7 linked regions of the Homo sapiens genome follow. The protein of the gene in region 1 purifies or fractionates together with the protein of each later gene. This does not show direct contact. Each region holds a gene or a part of one and is shown in the gene's direction. Other genes may lie near its edges. The genes, in order: KSR2, PRKAG1, SLX9, MKI67, ELAVL2, JAKMIP1 and CDC42BPB.

Evidence for each region.
Region 2: the proteins of KSR2 (region 1) and PRKAG1 purify together in Homo sapiens (co-immunoprecipitation; one large-scale study listed by IntAct). This does not show direct contact.
Region 3: the proteins of KSR2 (region 1) and SLX9 purify together in Homo sapiens (co-immunoprecipitation; one large-scale study listed by IntAct). This does not show direct contact.
Region 4: the proteins of KSR2 (region 1) and MKI67 purify together in Homo sapiens (affinity purification with mass spectrometry; one large-scale study listed by BioGRID and IntAct). This does not show direct contact.
Region 5: the proteins of KSR2 (region 1) and ELAVL2 purify together in Homo sapiens (co-immunoprecipitation; one large-scale study listed by IntAct). This does not show direct contact.
Region 6: the proteins of KSR2 (region 1) and JAKMIP1 purify together in Homo sapiens (co-immunoprecipitation; one large-scale study listed by IntAct). This does not show direct contact.
Region 7: the proteins of KSR2 (region 1) and CDC42BPB purify together in Homo sapiens (co-immunoprecipitation; one large-scale study listed by IntAct). This does not show direct contact.

What each region holds. Positions count from the first base shown.
Region 1 is NC_000012.12:117,759,491-117,762,990, reverse strand, and holds part of KSR2 (kinase suppressor of Ras 2), read left to right. Parts: intron 1-1,466; coding exon 1,467-1,980; intron 1,981-3,500. UniProt on the Homo sapiens protein: Location-regulated scaffold connecting MEK to RAF. Has very low protein kinase activity and can phosphorylate MAP2K1 at several Ser and Thr residues with very low efficiency (in vitro).
Region 2 is NC_000012.12:49,005,277-49,008,776, reverse strand, and holds part of PRKAG1 (5'-AMP-activated protein kinase subunit gamma-1), read left to right. Parts: intron 1-177; exon of another isoform or gene 178-351; intron 352-2,924; coding exon 2,925-3,034; intron 3,035-3,184; exon of another isoform or gene 3,185-3,233; coding exon 3,234-3,315; intron 3,316-3,385; coding exon of another isoform or gene 3,386-3,412; coding exon 3,413-3,471; intron 3,472-3,500. UniProt on the Homo sapiens protein: AMP/ATP-binding subunit of AMP-activated protein kinase (AMPK), an energy sensor protein kinase that plays a key role in regulating cellular energy metabolism.
Region 3 is NC_000021.9:44,960,529-44,964,028, forward strand, and holds part of SLX9 (ribosome biogenesis protein SLX9 homolog), read left to right. Parts: intron 1-3,500. UniProt on the Homo sapiens protein: May be involved in ribosome biogenesis.
Region 4 is NC_000010.11:128,109,424-128,112,923, reverse strand, and holds part of MKI67 (proliferation marker protein Ki-67), read left to right. Parts: intron 1-478; coding exon 479-791; intron 792-878; coding exon 879-997; intron 998-1,107; coding exon 1,108-1,279; intron 1,280-2,390; coding exon 2,391-2,546; exon of another isoform or gene 2,547-2,977; coding exon of another isoform or gene 2,978-3,071; intron 3,072-3,500. UniProt on the Homo sapiens protein: Protein that associates with the surface of mitotic chromosomes and acts both as a chromosome repellent during early mitosis and chromosome attractant during late mitosis.
Region 5 is NC_000009.12:23,690,241-23,693,740, reverse strand, and holds part of ELAVL2 (ELAV-like protein 2), read left to right. Parts: intron 1-254; coding exon 255-293; intron 294-425; coding exon of another isoform or gene 426-447; exon of another isoform or gene 448-539; intron 540-853; coding exon of another isoform or gene 854-856; coding exon 857-1,184; 3' UTR 1,185-3,500.
Region 6 is NC_000004.12:6,082,050-6,085,549, reverse strand, and holds part of JAKMIP1 (janus kinase and microtubule-interacting protein 1), read left to right. Parts: coding exon 1-130; intron 131-584; coding exon 585-704; intron 705-3,500. UniProt on the Homo sapiens protein: Associates with microtubules and may play a role in the microtubule-dependent transport of the GABA-B receptor. May play a role in JAK1 signaling and regulate microtubule cytoskeleton rearrangements.
Region 7 is NC_000014.9:103,051,050-103,054,549, reverse strand, and holds part of CDC42BPB (serine/threonine-protein kinase MRCK beta), read left to right. Parts: intron 1-3,500. UniProt on the Homo sapiens protein: Serine/threonine-protein kinase which is an important downstream effector of CDC42 and plays a role in the regulation of cytoskeleton reorganization and cell migration. Regulates actin cytoskeletal reorganization via phosphorylation of PPP1R12C and MYL9/MLC2.

The sequences.
Region 1 (3,500 bases):
ATGAGTGCAGCACACCAACATGGCACATGTATGCATATGTAACTAACCTGCACATTGTGCACATGTACCCTAAAACTTAAAGTATAATAATAATAAAATAAAAAAAAGGTTTTTTTTTTTTTGAGACTGAGTTTCACTCTTGTTGCCCAGGCTGGAGTGCAATGGTGCGATCTCAGCTCACTGCAACCTCTGCCTCCTGGGTTCAAGCGATTCTTATTGCCTCAGCCTTCTGAGTAGCTGGGATTACAGGCACACGCCACCACACCTAGCTAATTTTTTTGTATTTTTAGTAGAGATGGAGTTTCACCATGTTGGCCAGGCTGGTCTCAAACTCGTGACCTCAAGTAATCTGCCCATCTCGGCCTCCCAATTGCTGGAACTACAGGTGTGAGCCTCCGTGCCCAGCTGCCCATATTCTTTTTATCACGTCATTCTGTTTATTTCCCTCCCAGCACCAATAACCATGTGAAATCCTTCTGTGAGCATGTTTTCTTGTCTATCATGGCTGCTTTGGCAGAATGTAAGTCCAGGGGACCAGGGTCTCATCTGTGTTGCTTTTGTGTCTTTTCCAAGCAAAGGGCATAGTTGGCACTCACAGGATGTTTACTGGACAAATGCATGAATAAGAACATGGCGACACAGATCTGGAGGAAGTATGCGGTGGCTGAGGAAGTGGTCAGGGAGGGACTAAGGATGAACTTGACTTCCTTGGAATTTGTGTATCTCACATGAGGGTTAGGTATTAAAATTTCCATGTAAGGGAAAAGTTATCCTTTAAAGTCCTTTAAATCACTTTGAAACTACCAGAACTGGGACCTTGGGAAGTTCAAAAAGTGAGAATTAACTTCTTTGCTTTTCTGAGCATTTGGGCTGTGGGGTCTTCCCAGCTATGGGGCAGTGGAAGGCAAGGCTGTTGAATGGAGAATAGGGTAACAGGGTCAACAAGGGGATTTTATTGTCTTTTTGGAGGAGCCAAGTAGAGATGGTTGGCTTTATGTAAATGTACTTATGATGTAATGTGGGTATGATGTAACATGCATTTGATAGAATGTCTGTAAGAGGTAATGGGCATATGAAATAGCATGCATATGATGTAATGCACATATAATGTGACATGCATATGGTGTAATGTGCATATGATATGTGCATATAACATGCATACAACATAACAGATATATAGTGTAACATGCATATGATATGATGTGCATATGATATAACATGCATACGATGTAACAGGTATATAGTGTAACATGCATATGATGTAATGGGCACATGGTATAATGTGCATAAGATATAATTTGCATATGAGATAACATGCATACGATGTAACAGGTATATAGTGTAACATGCACATGATGTAATGGGCACGTGGTGTAATGTGTGTATGATGTAATGGTGTGTATGGTGTAACTCACCTGGCTTTCTCATGGCTTACCCATTGTCTCTGCTCTTCTGTTCCAACTCAGGAGGCAACCTTTCCAAACAAGACTGGACCATCCAGTGGCCCACGACAGAGACGGGGAAGGAGAACAATCCCGTGTGCCCCCCGGAGCCCACCCCGTGGATCCGCACCCATCTCTCCCAGAGCCCCAGGGTCCCGTCCAAGTGCGTCCAGCACTATTGTCACACCAGCCCCACTCCCGGGGCCCCTGTGTACACCCACGTGGACAGGCTTACCGTGGACGCCTACCCGGGCTTGTGCCCGCCCCCGCCACTGGAGTCGGGCCACCGTTCCCTGCCCCCATCGCCCCGGCAGCGGCACGCGGTCCGCACCCCGCCGCGCACCCCCAACATCGTCACCACCGTGACCCCGCCGGGCACGCCGCCCATGAGGAAGAAGAACAAGCTGAAGCCCCCGGGGACCCCACCGCCCTCCTCCCGAAAACTGATACACTTGATCCCGGGATTCACCGCGCTGCATCGGAGCAAATCCCACGAGTTCCAGCTGGGGCACCGCGTGGACGAGGCCCACACGCCCAAGTGAGTGCGATCGGTGGGTGCCCTGGGGCGGTCGAAACCCGGCCTGCGAGGGGCTGCCCCTTGGTCCCAGGAACTGCCCAGGTCAAGGAAACCGGGAACAGACTTGCGTTCCAGACTCTGGTTGAATGAAAAATGGCTTTTCACAGAGGGTTCTGAGCAAATGAATAGAACAGAATTTCCCAGAATTGGCCGTTTAAAAAATACGATTAATATCCTATGGCCTAGGGGCTAAATCTGATACCCGGCCTGATTTTGTAAATAAAAGGTATTGGAACACGCCCATGATCATTCCTTTATGTGTTGCCTATGGCTGCTTTTGTGTGACAATGGCAGAGTGAGAATAGCCCACAAAGCTGAAAGTATTTACCATCTGGCTTTTTACTGAAAACGTTTGCCAACCCCTGCAGAGTCTAGCCTAGTGCCGCTCCTAGAAATAGGATATGAGGCATATATTAACCTTCAACTTTCTAGTAGTCACATTAAAAAGAATGAAAAGGAACAAGTGATATTAATGATCATAATACATCATTCAACCCAATATATCAAAATTATAATATCTTAACAAAGAATCAATGTAAAATATCATTACAGAGATATTTTGCATTTTTTAAAATACAAAGTCTTTGAAATTGAATGTGTATTTTATATCCACGGCTCATCTCAGTTGAAGGTGGTAGGAAGCAGGACACGTTGGGGAAATTGACAGAGGACCCCTTTGGGGGAGAGAGCAGGTGTGTGATGTAGGGTGAGACTCGAGGATTAGGCAGGTTGCTGTGCTATTCACAGTAGCCAAAAAGTAGAAACAACCTGTGTCCATCAGTAGACAAATGAGTAAACACAGTGTGGTCTATCTATACAATGCAATATTATTCAGGCTTAAAAAGGAAGAAACTTCTTTTTTTTTGAGACGGAGTCTAGCTCTGTTGCCCAGGCTGGAGCAGTGGTGGGATGTCAGCTCACTGCAACCTCTGCCTCCCAGGTTCAAGTGATTCTCCTGCCTCAGCCTCCCAAGTAGCTGGGACTACAGGCCTGTGCCACCACGCCTGGCTAATTTTTTGTAGTTTTTGTAGAGATAGGGTTTCACCATGTTGACCAGACTGGTCTTGAACTTCTGACCTCAAATGATCTGCCCGCCTTGGCCTCCCAAAGTGCTGGGATTACAGGCATGAGCCATCATGCCCGACCTGGGAGGAACTTCTGATATATGCTACAACATGAGTGAACCTTGAAGACAGCATGCTAAGAGTAAAATATGCCAGACACATAATGACAAATACTGTATAATTCCACCAATATGAGATACCTAGAGTAGACAATTTATAGAGGCAGAAAGTAGAACGGTGGATGCCAGGGCTGAGGGGAGGGAGAATGGGGAGTTGTTATTTATTGGATATAGACTTTGCATTTGGGATGATGAAAACATTCTGGAGATGGATGGTGGTGATGGTTGTACAACAATGCAAATGTAATTAGTACCATTGAACTGTACACTTCAAAATGGTTAAGATGGTAAATTTTAT
Region 2 (3,500 bases), about 69 Mb from region 1:
CCAGCAGCTAGCAGGCAATGGAGCAATGCCTTCAACATTCTGCAGGAAAACACATTCCAAGCTTTCCTGCAGATTCTCTATTCAGCCGAATTATAAATCCAAGGATGAGGGTAGAATAAAGATATCTACAGGCTGCAAGGTCTCAAAAACACATACCTCCCATGCACCCTTTCTCAGGAAGCTACTGGAAGATGTGTTCCACCAAAATAAGGGAGTAATCAAAAAAGATAAAAACGCGATATAGGAGCACCAGTAGAGGACAGACGTGAAAGGGGTACCCAGGATGGTGATGAAGAAAGATCCCAGGATGACAGCAGTGCACACCAGACAAACCAGCCCAGATTTGAGCAGGTCAGAAGGCTCCAGGGAGATTTCTTTGGGTAGTTTAAATTTTGATAGACTGTCTAATGCTTTTGAACCTCTTAAAAGGAGATTTAAATAGTTGGTGAAGCATTTGGGGGTTGGATTAGTTATAAGAATTATACATAGAAAATTAAACAAAAGGACAAGACATTAACTCCAGGTAAAACAAAGTTGTGAAGGAAGAAAAAAAAATCAGAGTTTACTATTTGGCTTATCTCTGAATAATAAATATTCAGTCAAAATGATTTAAATACTGGCCGGGTGCAGTGGCTCATTCCTGTAATCTCAGCACTTTGGGAGGCCAAAGCGGGCAGATCACATGAGGTCAGGAGTTCGAGATCAGCCTGGCCAATGTGGTGAAACCCTGTCTCTACTAAAATACAAAATTTAGCCGGGCATGGTGGCGGGCACCTGTAACCCCAGCTACTTGCGAGGCTGAGGCAGGAGAATCGCTTGAACCTGGAAGGCTGAGGTTGTAGTAACCTGAGATCGTGCCACTGCACTTCAGCCTGGGTGACAGAGCAAGACTCCCTCTCAAAAAAAAAAAAAAAAAAGATTGAAATACGGATATAACCAACATTATGGTTTAGCTCCTGGAATAATGAGGAGAATGGGAAGTACGTGTTTGTGGTGGAGTCCTAGTAGGAGAGAGAACTAGAAATTCTCATCTTCTTTGGTAGATAGATGATAAATAATGCCCCAAAATGAAAAAAAAAATGGAAACTAGCAATACAAGCATGTTATTTAAGGACATAGAATTAAGTACCAAAATAATCAACTAAGGTAGATAGATGTTCTCATCTCTGGGGAAGGGTAGTACAGGGAGGTGGGTTGCAAGGAGTGCAATTTTTTCTTAACAAAATTTGTAAAACTGTTGGACTGATTTAACTGTGTGTCTATATAACTTTGGTTAAAAAAATAAATATTAAAAACCAAATTGATTAAAGACTTAAGAGCATGAAGTTTGGAAACAGATCTGGGTTTGTTTGAGTCTTTCTTGCCACTTATTAATGGTGTGACCTTGAGCAGTTTATTTAACTACACCTATTTTCTCATCTGAAACATGAGGACATTACTTACACATTTGTTGTAAGGATTAAATTATGTAATTTTTTTTTTTTTTTTTTGAGACGGAGTCTCACTCTGTCGCCCAGGCTGGAGTGCAGAGGCACAATCTCGTCTCACTGCAACCTCCACCTCCTGGGTTCAAGCAATTCTCCTGCCTCAGCCCCCTGAGTAGCTGGGACTACAGGCACGTGCCACCACGCCTGGCTAATTTTTATATTTTTTTAGTAGAGACGGGGTTTCGCCATGTTGGCCAGGCTGGTCTCAAACTTCTGACCTCAGGTGATCCACCCACCTTGGCCTCCCAAAGTCCTGGGTTACAGGTGTGAGCCACCACGCCCAGCCAATGTAATTTATTTATTTATTTATTTATTTTTTTGACACGGAGTTTCACTCTTGTTGCCCAGGCTGGAGTGCAATGTTGCGATCTCGGCTCATCGCAACCTCTGCCTCCCGGGTTCAAGCAATTCTCCTGCCTCAGCCTCCCGAGTAGCTGGGATTACAGGCATGCGCCACCATGCCCGGCTAATTTTGTATTTTTAATAGAGACAGGGTTTATCCATGTTGGTCAGGCTGGTCTTGAACTCCCGACCTCAGGTGATCCTCCCACCTTGGCCTCCCAAAGTTCTGGGATTACAGGCATGAGCCACCACGCCCAGCCTCAATGTAATATTTTTAAGTGCACGTAGTATAGTATGTAGCACATTCAAGCTATTATTTTGGGAGATTACTTCCCTAGTTTAGAGCAAGCAATTAAAATCACAGGAATAGAAAAAGGTAAACTAGCCAGGATCTCCCATTTGTCTAGAGTAGGTGGGATGATTTCTGATTTACAGGGTGATCCCAGAATGGACTATCAGGGTGTTTTGAGCCAGGTTGATTGAGCACTGGGCTCCAACTTATTGTTAATGAGAAATGGCCCAACTTGGACCATGACTTTCCCATTTGCAGGTCTTAGAATAATTTTTTTTTTAATTGAGACAGGGGTTCGCTGTGTTGCCCAGGCTGGCCTCGAGCTCCTGGGTTCAAGTGATCCTCTGCCTCAACTTCCTGAGTAGCTGGGATTACAGGTGCTTGCCACCATCCCCAGCACAGTCTTGGAAGAATTTTAAGAAGCTTACTTCATTGAAAAAAGAGGAAAGTGAAAATGTGCTAAGTATATGAAAGGGAAAGCTTGGATTAAAGATGAGAAACATTTTTAGACTATAACATGTTAAAGAGAGATACTATAGGCTTTATGTTTTAGTCAACTTCTTTTACCTATAGGGACCAATAGATAAAGTCTTAACCTGGAGACAGGGGTTGGATGAAATGGTTTCTAAGAGGTTTATCCAGGTTTTGTGGAAACAATAGGAACAAGACAGATAAAATAAGGGGTCTTATTAAAAAATAATGCTCTAAATATTTGAGATACTAGAACACTATTTTGTTTTCTGTCTCTTTTGATTGGGAGTTTTTATGTGGAAGGAAGCTACTAACTATCCCACCCTATGCAGAGACCCCAGAATCCAACAATAGCGTGTATACTTCCTTCATGAAGTCTCATCGCTGCTATGACCTGATTCCCACAAGCTCCAAATTGGTTGTATTTGATACGTCCCTGCAGGTGGGTGAAATCCTCTTTTCCCTTCCCCCTTTGGAGCCTGTGGTTTAATACCTCTCATCCTATCTCATCCTAAGGGTAATATCCTTATCCTTCTGTGAAGTTAGTCTCATGTTTTACCCAACATGCCCAAACACTGTTCTTTTTTTACAGTCCTGCCCCTGTGGATTTGCCTTTATGATTATTACTGTCTTGGCTACAGGTGAAGAAAGCTTTTTTTGCTTTGGTGACTAACGGTGTACGAGCTGCCCCTTTATGGGATAGTAAGAAGCAAAGTTTTGTGGGTAAGCAAAAGTTTCTGGAACACAATATTATTGGCATCTTGTGCTGGGCAGGGAGACAAGCTTCAGGCAGTGCTGAGGGCTCTGTCTTGTCCTCTAGGCATGCTGACCATCACTGATTTCATCAATATCCTGCACCGCTACTATAAATCAGCCTTGGTAAGGAACCTTAACCCAATGACCAAAAT
Region 3 (3,500 bases), on another chromosome or scaffold:
CCGTGAAATTTTTTATTGTGGAAGTAACCTGTGCTCGTGGAGTTTTTATGGTTCAGAAGTGCCTGCAGTGGTATGTGAAATCCTTCCAGGCCTTGCCCGCGGTGAAAACAGTGTCTGCGCATAGCGGCGTGGGTGTGGGCAGGGCCCCTGGTGTCCCCAGACCCTTTCAGGCCTGTGGCTCCCTCTTTTCTGAGGTCAGCCTTGCCACGTGCTCCCAGCTGCACGTCTCCGCAGGCTGAAAGCCACACTTCCCACTCAGGTTGTTTTGGAGTATCTCCTTATTTTTCGTGATGCTGGATATTTGCCAGTGTTTTTCTAAGATTGTTTCTCGTCAAAATTATTTTGTATTTTTCGGTTATCTTTTTAGTGTGATTCTGCTGACTTTGTGAAATTAATTTGGAATATTTTCTTTTTTATGTTATCTGCTTTATTTTTTCCTTGGAGGTTTTAAAGAAAATGTATGTTTTTCAGAGGTAGGACCTAGAAAACTTTGTCAGTTTCTTTTGTGATTATTAGTTTTATGGTTTCTATCCCTTTTTGGATATTTCTTAGGGAAATGATTCATTCCTCCATTTTCTTTTTCACAGTTCCTAGCATAGCTGTGAAAGTGGATTTGGACGGGCTACTGGACTGTGGCCATTTGGACCCTGATTTTCTAGGCTGTAATTCTTTGATGATGTGTAAATTTTATTCCATGGCACTTGGTCCTTTTTTTTTGTTTTTTCACAACTTGAGTCAATTTTGGCCACTCATAAAATGATCGAATTTGTCTGAGGATGGTGTCTCATGCCTGTAATCCCAGCACTTTGGAAGGTTGAGATGGAAGGATCACCTACGCCCAGGAGTTTCAGACTAGCCTGGGCAATATAGCGAGACCTTGTCTCTACAAAAAATGTAAAAATTAGTCAGATTAGGTGGTGTATGCCTCTGAGCCTCTAGTCCTAGCGACTTAGGAGGCTGAGGTAGGAAGATCGCTTCAACCCAGGAGTTTGAGGCTGCAGTGAACCGTAATTGCACTAGTGCACTCCAGCCTGGGTGACAGAGTGGGTCCTTGTCTCTAAATAATGTTAATGATCAAATTTAGTCAGATCTCAATCTTCATATGTTAGTTGCCTTCTTATTAAATATTCTGTTTTCTTTATCGTTCTTTATTTGTATCTCCACCTTCATTTCTGATTAAATTAAGAAGTTTTGTCTCTTCCATTTAATAATTAATGTATTTAATAACCAATTCTACTCTTTTGTCTTCAAAATTATTTGTTTTTATTTTGATCACTCCCGTTTTAGCTTTCTTTGGGTTTCAGTTACTCTGCTTATCTGTTTGTATATGTTTTGTTCAGGAGTGAAAGGCTGTAAGTTATCTCTAAATACAGCTTTAGCTACATTTCCCAAGTTACTTTTACTTTGTATTTTATTATGAAAAATTTTATTTAGGAAAGTGGGAAGAATTTTATAGGGAATACCCTGTACCCACCACACAGATTTTACAATCTTTATTACATAACCGTTCATCTAGCAGTTTCTGTCCATCTACCAACATGGGTTTTTAAAAATGCGTTTCAAAGTAAATGGCAGACATCAGTACACTCCACCCCAAATAATTCTGCTAGAGTTCATGGTTCTTTTTTTTTCTTTTTCTTTTGAAGATTGTATTTACATAAAATGAAATGCAAATCTAAAGTGTGCCATTCAATGATTGCTGACAAATGTTGTAGACACCTGTGCAGCTGAAATCCTGTTCAGGTTATGGACCATCACCACCATTCCCCGACAGTCACGCACCCCCCCAGTCAATTACCTCTCCCACTGGCCCCAGAGGTAACAACTGCTGTGTCACCCTTTGTCGTCCACAGTTGAGCTTTTCTTGCCTTAGACTCTGTATAAATGGAATCATGTAGGATGCACTCTTTCTGCATCTGGCTGCTTTTGCTCAGCGTAATGGTTTTGAAACCCATCCAGGCTGCATGTAGCAGCAGTCCATGCCTTTTGATTGCTGAGAAGTATTTCATTGTATGAATACACCATTTGTTACTCACTTTCCTGCTGATGGGCACCTGGGCTTTTTTCCATTTTTAGCTACTGTGAATAAGGCTGCTCTGAACATTCTTTACAAGTCTTTTTGTGGACATGTTTTCGTTTCTCTTGGGTAAGTGCTGAGGAATGGAATGCTGGGTCATAGGGTAGGTGTATGTTTAGTTTTATAAGCAGCTGCCAGACGCTTTTCTAGAGTGGTTGTACACTCACACTCCCACCAGAGCCTGTGAGAGTTCTCCTGGCCCTCAGCTTTGCCAACACATGGCCTGCCGTCTCCTCAGCCTCGGCCGTCTGGTAATCATGAAATGGTATCTCACGGTGGTACTCATTTCCGTTGCCACCAAAAGAGCATTTACATGTGCTTACTGTCCATTTGTGTTTCAGCGTCAGTGAAATTCATTTTTCATGAGGCTTTTTGTCTTTTTATTATTGAGCTCTAAGAGTTCTTTGTCCTAGAGTCCAGTCTTTGGTTGGATATGTGTTTTACAGATGTTTTTCCCAGACTGTGACTTGCCTGTTCATTTTCTTTCTTTTTTTTTTTTTTTGAGATAGAGTCTTGCTCTGTCGCCAGGCTGGAGTGCAGTGGTGCGATCTTGGCTCACTGCAAGCAACACCTCCTGGGTTCAAGCGATTCTTCTGCCTCAGCCTTCTGAGTAGCCGGGACTACAGGCACCCGCCACCGTGCCCGGCTAATTTTTTTGTATTTTTAGTAGAGATGGGGTTTCACCGTGTTAGCAGGATGGTCTCGATCTCTTGACCTCGTGATCCGCCCGCCTTGGCCTCCCAAAGTGCTCGGATTACAGGCGTGAGAACTTTTTTTTTTTTTTTAAATAAACGAGAGTTTAATTTTGAGAAGTTTAATTTATATTAGTTATTGTGTGTGTGTATATGTATGTGTGTGTGTCCTATTTAAGAAAACTTTGCCTAATCCCAAGTCATGAAGATATTATTCCTGTTTTCTTCTAAAAACTTTATAGTTTGAGCTTTCATATTGGTTTTTTTTTTCTATCTTGAATTGTTTGTCTATGTGGTGTTAGTGGTTAAGTTCCTTTTTTCCCCCTAATATGGATATTCAGCTGTTCCAGCACCATTTGTTATAAGTACTTTTCTTTCCTTATTGGATTGTTTTGTTGCCTTTGTGAAAAATCAGAAAGTCTCATAAGTGTGGATCTGTTTCTAGGCTGTCTTCTGTTCCATTGATCTATTTGTTGTACCTTAGCAAAAACCAGACTGTCTTGATTACCATAGCTTTAGGATTAATCTGGAAGTCAGATAACATAAGTCCTTTTTGTTGGTTCGTCTGTCTTGAGGTTGTTTTGGATATTCTAAGTCCTTGGCATTTCCATATAAATTATCATTAGCTTGTCTATTTCTTTAAAAACAACAACAAAAACCTAGTGGGGTTATGATTGGGATTTCATTGAATCTATAGATCAGTTCAGAATTACCATCTTAGCAAAGCAGAT
Region 4 (3,500 bases), on another chromosome or scaffold:
CACACCTCTGGGAAGTCATGGCCCTATAGCTCATAACCTTTGTAATAGGGCCTGGGCGGTCTTTCTTTCCTTCTCTTCCCAGCAGGAGTGGAAAGTGATGTCTGGCTCCCTTTCCATTTTACACTGGCTCCCAGGGGCAAGCAGTCCTCCCTCCATGTGGACTGCCGGGGGCTGGGTGCTCACAGCTGGTATTTACTGGGACTGAGATCAGACCCTGCTTGTCTTTCACTGATCAGGATGTTCCTTCCACCTTTTTACCTGAAATGACCTCACTTCAGACTTGGCTTGCTTCTCTTTCCTTTTCCTTAAATGACTGAGACAGTCTCACCTCTACCATAGTCTTCAAAGACAGTGGCTTAAGCATTTGATGCTTCAAGATTTAAACAGCTGAAATTCTTAACTGAATAGGTTTTTATCAGTCATTCCAGAGATGTTAGATCCTTGTTAAGGCTTCTTGTAAACAATTTTGTCTTGTCAGGAACAGCCTCAACCATCAGGAAAACAAGAGTCAGGTTCAGAAATCCATGTGGAAGTGAAGGCACAAAGCTTGGTTATAAGCCCTCCAGCTCCTAGTCCTAGGAAAACTCCAGTTGCCAGTGATCAACGCCGTAGGTCCTGCAAAACAGCCCCTGCTTCCAGCAGCAAATCTCAGACAGAGGTTCCTAAGAGAGGAGGGAGAAAGAGTGGCAACCTGCCTTCAAAGAGAGTGTCTATCAGCCGAAGTCAACATGATATTTTACAGATGATATGTTCCAAAAGAAGAAGTGGTGCTTCGGAAGCAAATCTGATTGGTTAGTCTGACATTAGAATACATATATTAAGGTGAATTTTTTCATGAATGCTAATTTTTGAAAAGTTTCGTCTTTTCCCTTTGACAGTTGCAAAATCATGGGCAGATGTAGTAAAACTTGGTGCAAAACAAACACAAACTAAAGTCATAAAACATGGTCCTCAAAGGTCAATGAACAAAAGGCAAAGAAGACCTGCTACTCCAAAGGTAGGGGCCTCACTGAATGGCTGCTTTACACATACCGGTGTCATCGAAGCTTGCATTCAGTGTGGATTTATGCTTTAATGTCCTGTTTACCTCCTTCCTGTTTTCTACAGAAGCCTGTGGGCGAAGTTCACAGTCAATTTAGTACAGGCCACGCAAACTCTCCTTGTACCATAATAATAGGGAAAGCTCATACTGAAAAAGTACATGTGCCTGCTCGACCCTACAGAGTGCTCAACAACTTCATTTCCAACCAAAAAATGGACTTTAAGGAAGATCTTTCAGGTAAAAACGTAGTCTTAGATCTTATAAATCTTTTGACTCTACTGTTTTTTACTGTGTTAATGTTTGTTTTGCTAACTTTGTTTATCTGCTGTGAAAGAGATTATAAAATAAACGACTCAATCACCCTTCTGGGGTCTTAGTGTTCAGGGAAGATAAAGCTGTTTTGGCTTGCAAAGACAAGTCTCTGCTAATTTTTGGGATCACATGTCCTGCATGAAATAGGTGTGGAAATGTCAAATGCATGTCTTTACCCTGGAGAGCAGCGTATACATAGAAAGCTGGAAGGTGCTTTACAGTGAAGAGAGTTAACTTGTTAATCTGCAGGTACAATAATAGTTTATCCCAGGTGTGGGCCAGTTGTTGTTGAGCAACATTTTGCTTCTTCAGGATTGACTTTCTAGGTAGCTTAACTTTCTTGAAAGAAAGCCCTATGAGAAGATTCCCATAAACGATTGTTGAAGAAATATTTCCATTCAATTCCCACTCTCAGTAAATTGTGGCCTGACTTGTGTAATTTAAAGTGGGGATGGCCGGCGCAGTGGCTCACGCCTGTAATCCCAACACTTTGGGAGGCTGAGGCCTCCTATCATTCCAAACAGAATGATAATGATATTAGATTTTCAAAAATATATATTATTACTTGACAGTACTAAAAATGGGCAGCTCTTTGTCATTTTCTAAAATGTGGGTACGTGTTATTTGTACTTAAAATCTAGAACTGAGCACCCAAGACTTTGAGAAGCATGAAGGCATTTGGCCTCTAGATCCTAGCAGGGAGGCCTATGGGTCTCAGGAGCCCGTCACCAGCCTCCGTGCTCCAGAGCTCACGTGTGGGGTCTTGTTAGGAGGACCCAGAGGTCAGCTAACTTCATTTGTTTCCTTTCCAAGAAAAGCAAAGCGAAGAGCATAACATATCTTCTCTGTGCTCTCTTTTTTACAAAATGAGTACATTATTAATGGAATCACTCTTTTTATGAGGCCTATGTACCAGGATTTCAAGGGAGGAATCTACTGTTATTTCCCACCATTTGCACGTTACATGTGAGGGCTGGGATGGTTGTCTGCATGTTAGCAATATGTCAATCACTTTTCAAATATTTTCATTTAACAGGAATAGCTGAAATGTTCAAGACCCCAGTGAAGGAGCAACCGCAGTTGACAAGCACATGTCACATCGCTATTTCAAATTCAGAGAATTTGCTTGGAAAACAGTTTCAAGGAACTGATTCAGGAGAAGAACCTCTGCTCCCCACCTCAGAGAGTTTTGGTTGGTTTCCTTGTTTCCTAACACTGTGATGTTTTGGGATAGGAACATACAGTATTATTTTTTTACAAGCAGTATGATATTACTTCTCTAAAACAAATGTTCCTGGCACAAAATACCATTTCCGTCTTCTCTGTTCTAATTGAAAGGGAGATTTCAATCAGCAGTTGAACTAACATTGGCATTCATTGACTTATATAGAAAGAAAGACTCCGTTAATGTGTGTAAATGACCTGTGTACACTTTTGGCTTCTTTATTGTAAGTAACCAGGGTGACATAGCAAAAAAATACAATGGTGTCTCACCATATTTACATATAAATTACTCATATTCAAAATTACTGCCAATTACAAAACAGAAAGATAACAGTTTGTATACTGTGCAATTATTCCTGCTAACCTTTTAGGTGGGAGCAGGCCCGGGGTAAGTGTGAGATGGGAGATGAGAATCTGTCTAATCTCTCATTTGGCACTGGTCACTGTATTCCTGTCACAGAGGGAACAGCTTGCTACCCTGAAGATGTTTGCGGTAGGTAAATATTTCCTGTGTAATATGGACCCTAACCACATAAGGATAATCCATGTTATTTTATTGGCGATTTAAGGCAAGAAACAGCTGTTTGTTTCTAATGTTTGAAGGAAAAAATGCCTATATTTACGTCAATGACACAGGGCATGGCAACCTTTGGAGGAACCTTCTGAAGCAGTATTTTTACCTTCTATGATCATTTCAGCATCTAACTTTGCTTAATGATGACCCCACTATAGCACCAAATAACATTATTCTTAATTGTGCATGGCTCTTATAAGACAGATTTATAGACACATAAGTAGCCTCATGTCGTTCAGTGAATACGAAGCTAAATATTTAGTTTTTTACCATATTTTATGAGGCTGTAATACTCGATTGACATGAGACACTAATAGAATGTTTTTATTGTGTATGTTTTTATTTCAG
Region 5 (3,500 bases), on another chromosome or scaffold:
GAAAGGTATCCTCAGATGACCGTCACTGTGTCCCATGTACTGACCCTTGTAGAGAGAAACCATTCATTGGAAGAACTGTCCTGTGGCAGTCGGTGCCCATTAGCTTAAAAACGTAAAAAGACCCAGCATTCTGAGTCTTCACATATAATCAGTGTACAGATATCCCCTCGGAAGATGGCAGTAATGAGCCCAACTTTCTTGAACATCAAGGGGAAAAATTAAAAACTGAAGTTTGCTAAATGTGTGTTTTGCAGGTTGGACAATCTGCTCAATATGGCTTATGGAGTAAAGAGGTAATGATAGAGGTTCATGATACTCATAATCCCTTTCCACAGTTGATTGGTTTCTTTGATTTTGGGAGTGCTATTCACACCCCTCATAAGTTTTTGTTGGGTTTTATTTTGCATGTGCAACCTAATGAAAAGCTGCTCTTTGAAGCACAATTGACTCAAGAAATTTTTATACCACCGGATGCCACCTGGTCTTTTAAAAACCCATCATTTGTTTCGTATTGCGTTACGACGTTACAGCATGTTTACGTATGTGTTGATCCCTTCCCCTGCCAATCCTGCTTAATTCATGAAGCCAGTTCTAAATATATTTCTTTGCTATTGTGGATGATATTCAGTACAGTGAATAATGGTCATTTCATAACTTATTAATATCTCAGTAGTCTAGCATGTCACTGCAAAGCCACACACAGACCTTGGTCAAAACATGAAATAGTTTATATATTTGTTGGGGGAGGAGAGTTACTAAAATTCTTGGGGATGGAAAAGGTATACGTTCATTGCTATAACCAACCTCTGTTTTTATTTTTTGTGTGTATGTGTGTATTTCCTATTCTGTTTAGCAGGTTTTCTCCAATGACCATTGACGGAATGACCAGTTTGGCTGGAATTAATATCCCTGGGCACCCTGGAACAGGGTGGTGTATATTTGTGTACAACCTGGCTCCTGACGCAGATGAGAGTATCCTGTGGCAAATGTTTGGGCCTTTTGGAGCTGTCACCAATGTGAAGGTCATCCGTGACTTTAACACCAATAAATGCAAAGGTTTTGGATTTGTGACTATGACAAACTATGATGAGGCTGCCATGGCGATAGCTAGCCTCAATGGATACCGTCTGGGAGACAGAGTACTGCAGGTCTCCTTTAAGACAAACAAAACGCACAAAGCCTAATGAGCTCTTGTCCTCAGTCCATTTATATATGAAAACTATACAACAAAGGCAAGTTAAGAGAAACTTTATACATTAGTAAATGTCTTTGTAAGTCAGTGTTGAGATGGGGATAAAATGACTACTTAGCATCCTAAGAAATATGTGAGATTTTTTATTGCTAGTATTTGAATTAAAACTTCTTAAATATCTTTTATGTTTGAATATGGACAAGAGGTACAGGGTTTTTACCTGTCACATTGCATTCTATTGCCTTCTTTGAAGAAGGTGGACCTTTTAAAGTGTTTCAGCTAAGGGAAGACATTTCTTTTCTTTTTACATAACTGCCTTGAACCTGTGAGTAAATATTGAGGCTTTGTGTTGTAATTCTTCAGTTGGTTGTGTCTTTTTTTTCCCCCCTTTTTTTCCTTTTTCTGATTAGCTTTGTGTTTGGTTTACATTTAAAGCATTGCTGTTATGTCTGTTTAAGAAAAGTATTTTGAAGTTTACATTTTTATTTATGAAGTTTAAAACAGTATTTATTTTGTAATTATGATTTGGGTTGGGGAAGGGGGGGCTACATTATAAACGCTTATTGTAAGAATACTGGAGAACTTTTCGTAAAGCAGTACCTTGCCAAAGAGATAAGAGCCTCTTTGATGTGGGTTTAAAAAAAGCATCTATTTTTATAAAAAAGAAAATTTGGAGAAACTTTTTACTGGTCCTGGAACAAATATTTTGACTTGAATACTTTGAGAAATCTCTTCATATGACACCTAGTGAGCTTTTAAAATTTACCAGGAAATTTGCAGCGGTTGGAAAATTTAGAAAGATTTATGGTGTAGAAAATACTTTTGAGATCTTTGTATGAAAGGAGTAGAATCAATGGGGGGAAACACTGCTGGTTTCATTTTTGTAATCACCAGTGGAGCGTCTGATCATCCTGGTTATTATGTGATAGGTGGCTCACATTGATTTGTGATTTTGAAACAAATAAAAAAAATTTACAAAAGAATATATAAGAGCAGGCAAGAAATTTAAATTACCGAGAGATGGGGGAAAAAATCTGTTCTTCCTAAAGAAATCCCTTCAGATAGAGCTCATGGTGTTTAGTGATGTACTTGCAGTATTGTTTGAAGAATTGTTTTGTCTTAAGGAAAAAAGACGTTGCACATGATTTGTACTGCAGCAAATCAGCAAAAGTGATCTGAGTTGGATATATTTGAAGGTATTTTGAAAGTTACGTTCAAGGCTAACACCTGAGCTTTGTGTAATGTAAATAAGACCTTGTGTTTATGAACCTTTCAGCTAATTTAATTTTTTTTCCCTTACATGCCAAGTGATGTTCAGGTTTTGAATGTTTTTGTATCAGTTTTTTCCTTTGTAAATGGCATTAACATTGTTACTTGAGGTCTTGCTTAATCACTTTTGTTGTCCTGAGGACTTGAATTTACAGTGCATCAGATTTGTTGCAAATTTTGTCTGTAGATAGTCTAGCTTCAGCTGTTTATGGTGATGCTACATTTTGGTTTATAAATATGTTTGTGGTATAAAAAAATGAGTATAACCATAGGTTTTGAACAAATTTCCTTACATTTTTCATACAAAAATCATAAATATCTGTATGCTATTGAAATTTAACTTTGTATGATGCTTAAAAACCACTATTTGGGGAAATAATAAAATAAGTCTTTACCATGTATGAAAGAAATTTTAAAAAATACAAAATATTTTCTGATTAGCATCTAGCTTATAATAAATTTTCAAAAAAGCTGAAGGCAAAAATGCCTTCATCAGGATGCACTGAGAACTATATAGTTACGTCCTGCTTTTTGTATAAACTGAGATGCTCACATGCTTCCCCTTAGAACAGGCAATGTGCTATGCATAACATAGTTGTACATTATCTTTGCGGTTGCTTTGAGTTTTATTTTTTATTATTTAAAATTGTAGTTATAAAATTTTTCAGTATAGTACAGTACATATACTGTGAGGCGCGTGCTAAAGTGAATAAGCGAGTTTTCATGCTGACCCACTCAATGCTATTCAGAAATCAATTGGCTTAGCACTTTCTCATATCCTTAGGTGCATTTAGATTGCCAGAGTTAACCTTCTGCGTTTAAAAAAAGAAAAACACTAAAAAATAAAATACATGTATATACTTAAAAAAAAATAATAAGGTTTCCCTCAAGGGAAAACAGCAGCTACATGCTTCTTTCCTATACTACTGTAGCAAACCAAGGCATTGATGAGAGGGCATGCAAATTGTGCTTCACTTTACAGTGTTTTATCAGAGCACTTAATAAAATGTAAGGCTGGTATTTATTTGAAGTTGTACAG
Region 6 (3,500 bases), on another chromosome or scaffold:
GCTGCTTCTGCAGAAAGAGGCTTTGGATGAGCAGCTGGTTCAGGTCAAGGAGGCCGAGCGGCACCACAGTAGTCCAAAGAGAGAGCTCCCGCCCGGGATCGGGGACATGGTGGAGCTCATGGGCGTCCAGGTGAGGGGCAGCAGCTTGTGCCAGCCTCAGGCTGGTCCCCCACCCATTTAGGTGGCATTTTTCTGGTCAGCCACAGAGGACTCTGAGGTGGCATGTATTCACTCATTCATTCATTCACTCAGTATTGGAGGGGATGTTATAAGTTCTTTGTGCTGGACGCTGTGTGAGGTGCCGGTGCGTGGCGGCCTTTGTAAGAGATACGGGGTGGGAGGGGCCTGACCACAAGGGCCCCAGGGAGCCACGGAAGGGTTTGAAGTCTCAGTGGCCGTCTAGATGGAGTCTTCCGCAGGTGTGCAGTGGGCTTGGGTGTTCCCCACCTTGCTGTGTGGCATGTGGGCCCCTGAATAAGGATCTCACCCATTATGTCATGTGAATTTTCTAAGAAGGCTCCACACAACTTCTTCAAAGTACATTTACGTCTTGACTTTTTTTTTTTTTTTTTTTTTTTTTTTAGGATCAACATATGGACGAGCGAGATGTGAGGCGATTTCAACTAAAAATTGCTGAACTGAATTCAGTGATACGGAAGCTGGAAGACAGAAATACGCTGTTGGCAGATGAGAGGAATGAACTGGTAAGTAGCCCCAAGAGACAGGCGGTGCCTCATAGGGTGCAAGGAAGGGGCCCTGAGTCCCTGAAACATGCCCTGCACAGAAAGTTAATGCAGAAGCCTTCTGGTTCTCTGAACTTTCCTTCTTACTTCTTTTCGATTAAAAATCTAACACATGCTCATTGAAGAAATCTCTTACTGCCATTTGTTTTTGTAGGAACTTATCTTTAGCAAACAACTGGAGAACTTCCATGAGAAGCATGGAGAGGATGTTCATTGCAGTGTTGTTTATGTTAACAACCGAAACCGAAAAAAATCAACAATTAAAAAACCAAAAAACCCAATTGTTCAATACTAAAGCGTAGGGCAGAGTGATTATGGAATATTTATACAATGAATTCTAGACTGTCATTAAGATTGATGATGGAGACCCTCTTTAATTGAAATGGAAACGTGTTCATAGTAAATTAAATGAAAAATGCATTTTACAGAACAATAATACATTGTCATCATCTTGAATATTAGAAATTATTCTTTTTTTTTTTTTTTTTGAGATAAAGTTTCACTCTTGTCGCCCAGGCTGGAGTGCAATTGGCACCATCTTGGCTCACCGTAACCTTCACCTCCCGGGTTCAAGCGATTCTCCTGCCTCAGCCTCCCGAGTAGCTGGGATTACAGGCATGTGCCACCATGCCCGGCTAATTTTGTACATTTAGTAGAGGCAGGGTTTCTCCATGTTGGCCAGGCTGGTCTTGAACTCCTGACCTCAGGTGATCTGCCCGCCTCAGCCTCCCAAAGTGCTGGGATTACACACAAGAGCCACCACATCTGGCTAGAAGTTATTCTTTTAGGTGGTGTAATTATGGGTAATTTTAATTTGTGCTTATGTATTTACTTTTTTGCATAAAATTTTATATACTTGTAAACTAAAACTTATACATTAATTTTAAAAATAATGAACATGGACTTCTGGTTAAAAAAGAAATCTCCAGTAAAAATAGAAATTTCATGAATATGTTTACATTTTCTGGATAACAGCAAAACTAATTTTTATGTAATGGCAGTTGATACATCAACTTCTTGACAGATGCCTCATAATTTTTATGTTTATTCTAATTTTTATTATGAAGAGAAGTATATCCACAGAATATTTGAAAAAAATGAGTGGTGAAAAGTGTCCGTAAGTATCACCTCTTCACAACTTTAATAGGATCAAAATAAATTTACTTCCTTCCAGTATTTTTAAATGTTTTTTTTTTTTTGGCTTTAATCAGACTGTACATCTAATATTATGTCTCTACTCTTCATTTAAATATTTATAAGCTCATAAATACTCATGAGCTGCATAGTTTACTGAGTGGATTAGGAAAAAACACAGGCTTCTGGAAACATGTCAGATCAGACTGAAGTAGTTAAAAGTAGAAACTAATAAGTTTGCCAACGCTTCAATCTTTTTTTTTTTTTTTTGAGGTGGAGTCTTGCTCTGTCGCCCAGGTTTGAGTGAGGTGATGTGATCTCAGCTCACTGCAACCTCTGCCTCCCGGGTTCAAGTGATTCTCCTGCCTCAGCCTCCCAAGTAGCTAGGATTACAGGCACCCGCCAACACACCCGGCTAATTTTTGTATTTTTAGTAGAGATGGGGTTTCACCATGTTGGCCAGGCTGGTCTTGAACTCCTGACCTCAAGTGATCTGCCTGCCTCAGCTTCCCAAAGTGCTGGGATTACAGGCGTGAGCCACCGCGCCTGGCCTCAATCTTAAAATCATGAGGTAACTACTGCTAGTTTGGAGTGGTTCTTAAATGTTCTTAATGTTTAAATAAATACCTTAAAACTCACCGAGAGACTTTGTTTTATTTTATGGATATGAATTGGGATTTTTTTCCCTGCTGTGTATTGTTCTGCAACTTGCTTTTTTCACCTCATTGATCAATTACATCACTCCCCATCAGTGCTTAGAGATCTGTCTTTGTCTTTTTACCAGCGGCTTGGTAGTCCATTGTGTGGATATACCATGGTCTGTTCACCTCTCTTCCCAGTGGTGGATCTTTAGGCTGTTGCCGCTTTCTGGATTTCTGTGAGGTGCCACATGCCTGTAATCTCAGCACTTTGGGAAGCCAACGTGGGAAGATTCCTTGAGCTCAGGAGTTCCAGCCCAGCTTGGGCAGCATGGCAAAACCCCATCTCTAAAAATACAAAAAAATTAGCTGGGTGCAGTGGTGCACACCTGTAGTTCCAGCTACTTGGGAGGCTGAGGTGGGAGATCACTTGAGGCCAGGACGTCAAGGCTGCAGTGAGCTGAAATCACGCCACGGCACTCAAGCCTGGGTGACGAAGTGAGACCCTTTGTCAAAGTGACACATGTCATTTTACCTACCTTCTGTCTCGAAAAAAAAAAATGCCATGAAGAAGATACATATGGGTCTTTACTGACTTTACATAAAGGTTCAAGTCAGTAAAGACACGTATGTATCTTCTACATGGCATTTTTTTGGGGGGGCGGTAGGTTTCTAGAAGTAGAATGCATGGGTCACATGGTACATTTTATATTTCAACCTATACCATCAGAATATTTTACCTTAACATTTACAGCCTGGGGAGTAAACGCAGGGGTCTAGAGTCAGTCCCTTGTGTTTGAATCTTGGTGAACTCAAACCACCAATCTTTGCAAAAGTGCAAAGCATTCTTGGCACTTTCTTTGTGAAGTTGGGCCCATTGCCTCCTCTCTTTGGGCTCAGGTTCTTTGTCTATAAAATGCGGATGGGGAAGGTGGCCCCTTCACATGTGTTGGCTGTGCCTGTGGTTATCATGATATTGATAGAT
Region 7 (3,500 bases), on another chromosome or scaffold:
GCCTGGTTGTTTCGATTGGAAAGCACAGAATAATGTTTTTGAATAAAACTATTTATAGAGCAATATTAGGTACTCTAACTTCCAAGTGGAATTACTTCTGCTCAGGAAACACATATAGGCTGTCCATCAGTGGACTGTTCAGTTTTTGGATTCACCACTCCATGACATTTGAAACCTCTGATATGTCGATTCCTGTCACGTGGAAAAGCCAACCTTTCCCCACTTCCCAAATCTTGCCAGGTATCTAATGACAATTATGGAGAATTCTTGAAACTTAAGGAAGAAAAGTAGCTGATTCAGCCCAGATTTGGAGGCTTAATGGGGAATATGTGAGGAAATTTGGAAAGTATAGGTAGTAAACTTTTTAAGTTTTAAAGGAAGATTATGGCCTGGTGCAGTGGCTCATGCCTGTAATCCCAGCACTTTGGGAGGCCAAGGTGGAGGATTGGTTGAACTCAGGAAGACAAGACCAGCCTGAGCAACCTGACAAAACCCAGTATCTATAATAAATGTCAAAATAAAATTTTATAAAAATATAAAAATTAGCTGGGCATGGTGGCGCACACCTGTAGTCCCAGTTACTCTGGAGGCTGAGGTGGGTGGATCACTTGAGCCTGGGAGGTCAAGGCTGCAATGAGCAATGATCATGCCACTACACTCCAGCCTGGGCAACAGAGTGAGACCCTGTCTCAAAAATAAATAAAATATGATTATTTTTGGCTCATATTTTCTTATTGCCACAGTGGTCGCATGGGACAAGAGTCATTTCAACTTTTTTTTTTTTTTTTGAGACGGAGTCTCACTCTGTCGCCCAGGCTGGAGTGCAGTGGCGGGATCTCGGCTCACTGCAAGCTCTGCCTCCCGGGTTCACGTTGTTCTCCTGCCTCAGCCTCCTGAGTAGCTGGGACTACAGGCGCCCGCCATCACGCCTGGCTAATTTTTTTGTATTTTTAGTAGAGACGGGGTTTCACCGTGTTAGCCAGGATGGTCTCGATCTCCAGACCTCGTGATCTGCCCCCCTTGGCCTCCCAAAGTTCTTGGATTACAGGTGTGAGCCACCGTGCCTGGCCGAGTCATTTCAACTTTCATTGTAGGTTTTTGTCTTTAATTTTCCTATAGCTTGATTGGTTTCCTCTATGAAATCTTGAACCTTAATGCCCAGCTTTGCGTGTGTATTCTTTTCTTTTCTTTTCTTTTTTTTTTGAGACGGAGTCTCACTCTGTTGCCCAGGCTGAAGTGCAGTGGTGCGATCTTGGCTCACTGCAACCTCCGCCTCCCGGGTTCAAGCAATTCTCTGCCTCAGTCTCCCGAGTAGCTGGGATTATAGGTGCCTGCCACCACGCCTGGCTAATTTTTGTATTTTTAGTAAAGACGGGGTTTCACCATCTTGGCCAGGCTGGTCTTAAAGTCCTGACCTCGTGATCCACCCTCCTCGGCCTCTCAAAGTGCTGGGATTACAGGCGTGAGCCACCACGCCTGGCCTTGCATGTATATTTCTTTAAGCTATTTTGAAAATATCTTGATACCATTTGAAGCAGAACATATGAAACACTTTACAGTTTCCAAAAGTAAATAGCAACAAATACGGACAACCCAGTGAGATGAATTTGTTGTCTTTCATCTTTGTCATATACAAATACTGTCTTATGTGTTAAATATTTTTCCCACAGCTTATTTGTAACAGCTAATGTTGCGTTTGGATGGAGCTGATGTTTGAAATCCTAGCCTATGGGCATTGGACAGGCCACAGTGGTCCTCTGCCCTGGCTGCTGTGTGGCCGTCAGACCAGGAGGGAGGCCTCAGGCTTGATGCTGGTGTCACAGAGGCGGACCGTGGGTTTCCAGTCCCCAGTCCGGGCATCTTCTCTCGAGATGTGCTTCCTCTTCATGAATAGAATTAATCCTCCTAGTCTTCTGGGTGGTTCCTCATTTGTGGCTTTTCTCACCATGAGTGTGATAGTATCTTCTCACGGTCCTCCTCCATGGATGTGAATGCCCATAGCTGTTAGTGTGGGAATGGCCAGCCCAAGGTGTGAGTGGGATGATGCCACCGAATTTAATAAGTAAGGCTTAACTGACACGGTGCTAAACATCTCATAATAAAAAGTGCTGGGATTACAGGCGTGAGCCACTGTGCCCGGCTCAAATACATTTTTATCTTAATGATTTCTCTGGATAGAATATTTGCATAACATGGGAACACTTTTTAAAAATAACAGACTTAAGAAATAGATCTTTTGAGTAAGATCTGAATTATAGGGAAATGTTAGGATTGCATGATAAAAATTAGTTTAACCTAATTTAGATCATGTAGATTCTATGGTAGCTGTTTGATACTGACTATAATAGCATGAGATAGGACAGCTGAAACCATTAAACATTAACAACCCAGCCCTACCTTTTCTGTCTTAAAACTTCAGGCCGGGTGTGGTGGCTCACACCTGTAATCCCAGCACTTTGGGAGGCCAAGGTGAGTGGATCAGGAGTTTGAGACCAGCCTGGCCAACAAGGTGAAAACCCGTCTGTACTAAAAATACAAAAATTAGCCGGGTGTGGTGGCACGCATAGTCCCACCTACTTGGGAGGCTGAGGCAGGAGGATCTCATGAACCCAGGAGGCAGAGGTTGCGGTGAGCTGAGATTGCGCCACTGCACACCAGCCTGGGCAACAGAGCAAGACCCTGTCTCCAAAAAAAAAACAAAAAACCTCTTCCTTCCATGACAGTTGGGCTTCACAGTGAGCAGCAGTGTCTCTCTTAAATCTAGACTTCAAAGAAATAAAATTGGATTTGAAGAAATAGTTCTCACTTCAGGATACCACTGTGTGAGCTACCTGAAAAAGTTTAAAATGTGCAGTGAATTGCCCTTCAGGCAAAATACTCAAATGCATGTAAATTACAGAACTCACAACACTGCAGGGTTGACAGAGAGCTCCTCTGCTTGCCTCCGCCCTGCCTCTTGTCGCAAGCCAGGTGCCCTTAGATGTCTCCTGGTTGCGCTGACATTAGTGATACTGGATAAACAGGCAGGCACACAGGACTGTTAATTCCAAACTATATTAAATACAGTGAAACTGTCAAATGCTTTTCTCTGAAAAGAGACAAAGCTTTTTTTTTTTTTTTTTTAGCTGGAAGAGACTAAAAACAATGTTACCATGTAATCTCATCCCAAAACCCATAACATAATACCTATTAGTCCTTGACCACGTTTGTTTTTTTCTTAGATTCTTAGTGTTATGGGATGACGGTATGTTATGGTTACCTTAAATTTGTGTGAGAAGCTCACAGAAAGCCTCTCTTGCTAATGAGAATGGATGAGAGGAAACACCCTCTCCTTAAATCTAAAATCAGAAGTGTTTTGGCAATGTGAACTGCGTGTAGTAATCTCCCGCCCCCCCGCCCCAAATACACTAGCCACTAACTGGGAGATAAAGGTCAAGTTTCAGTTTGATTTTAAACAATCTGTGTTGGGGGTTAGGTTTTTGGTTAGTTTTATTGATTGG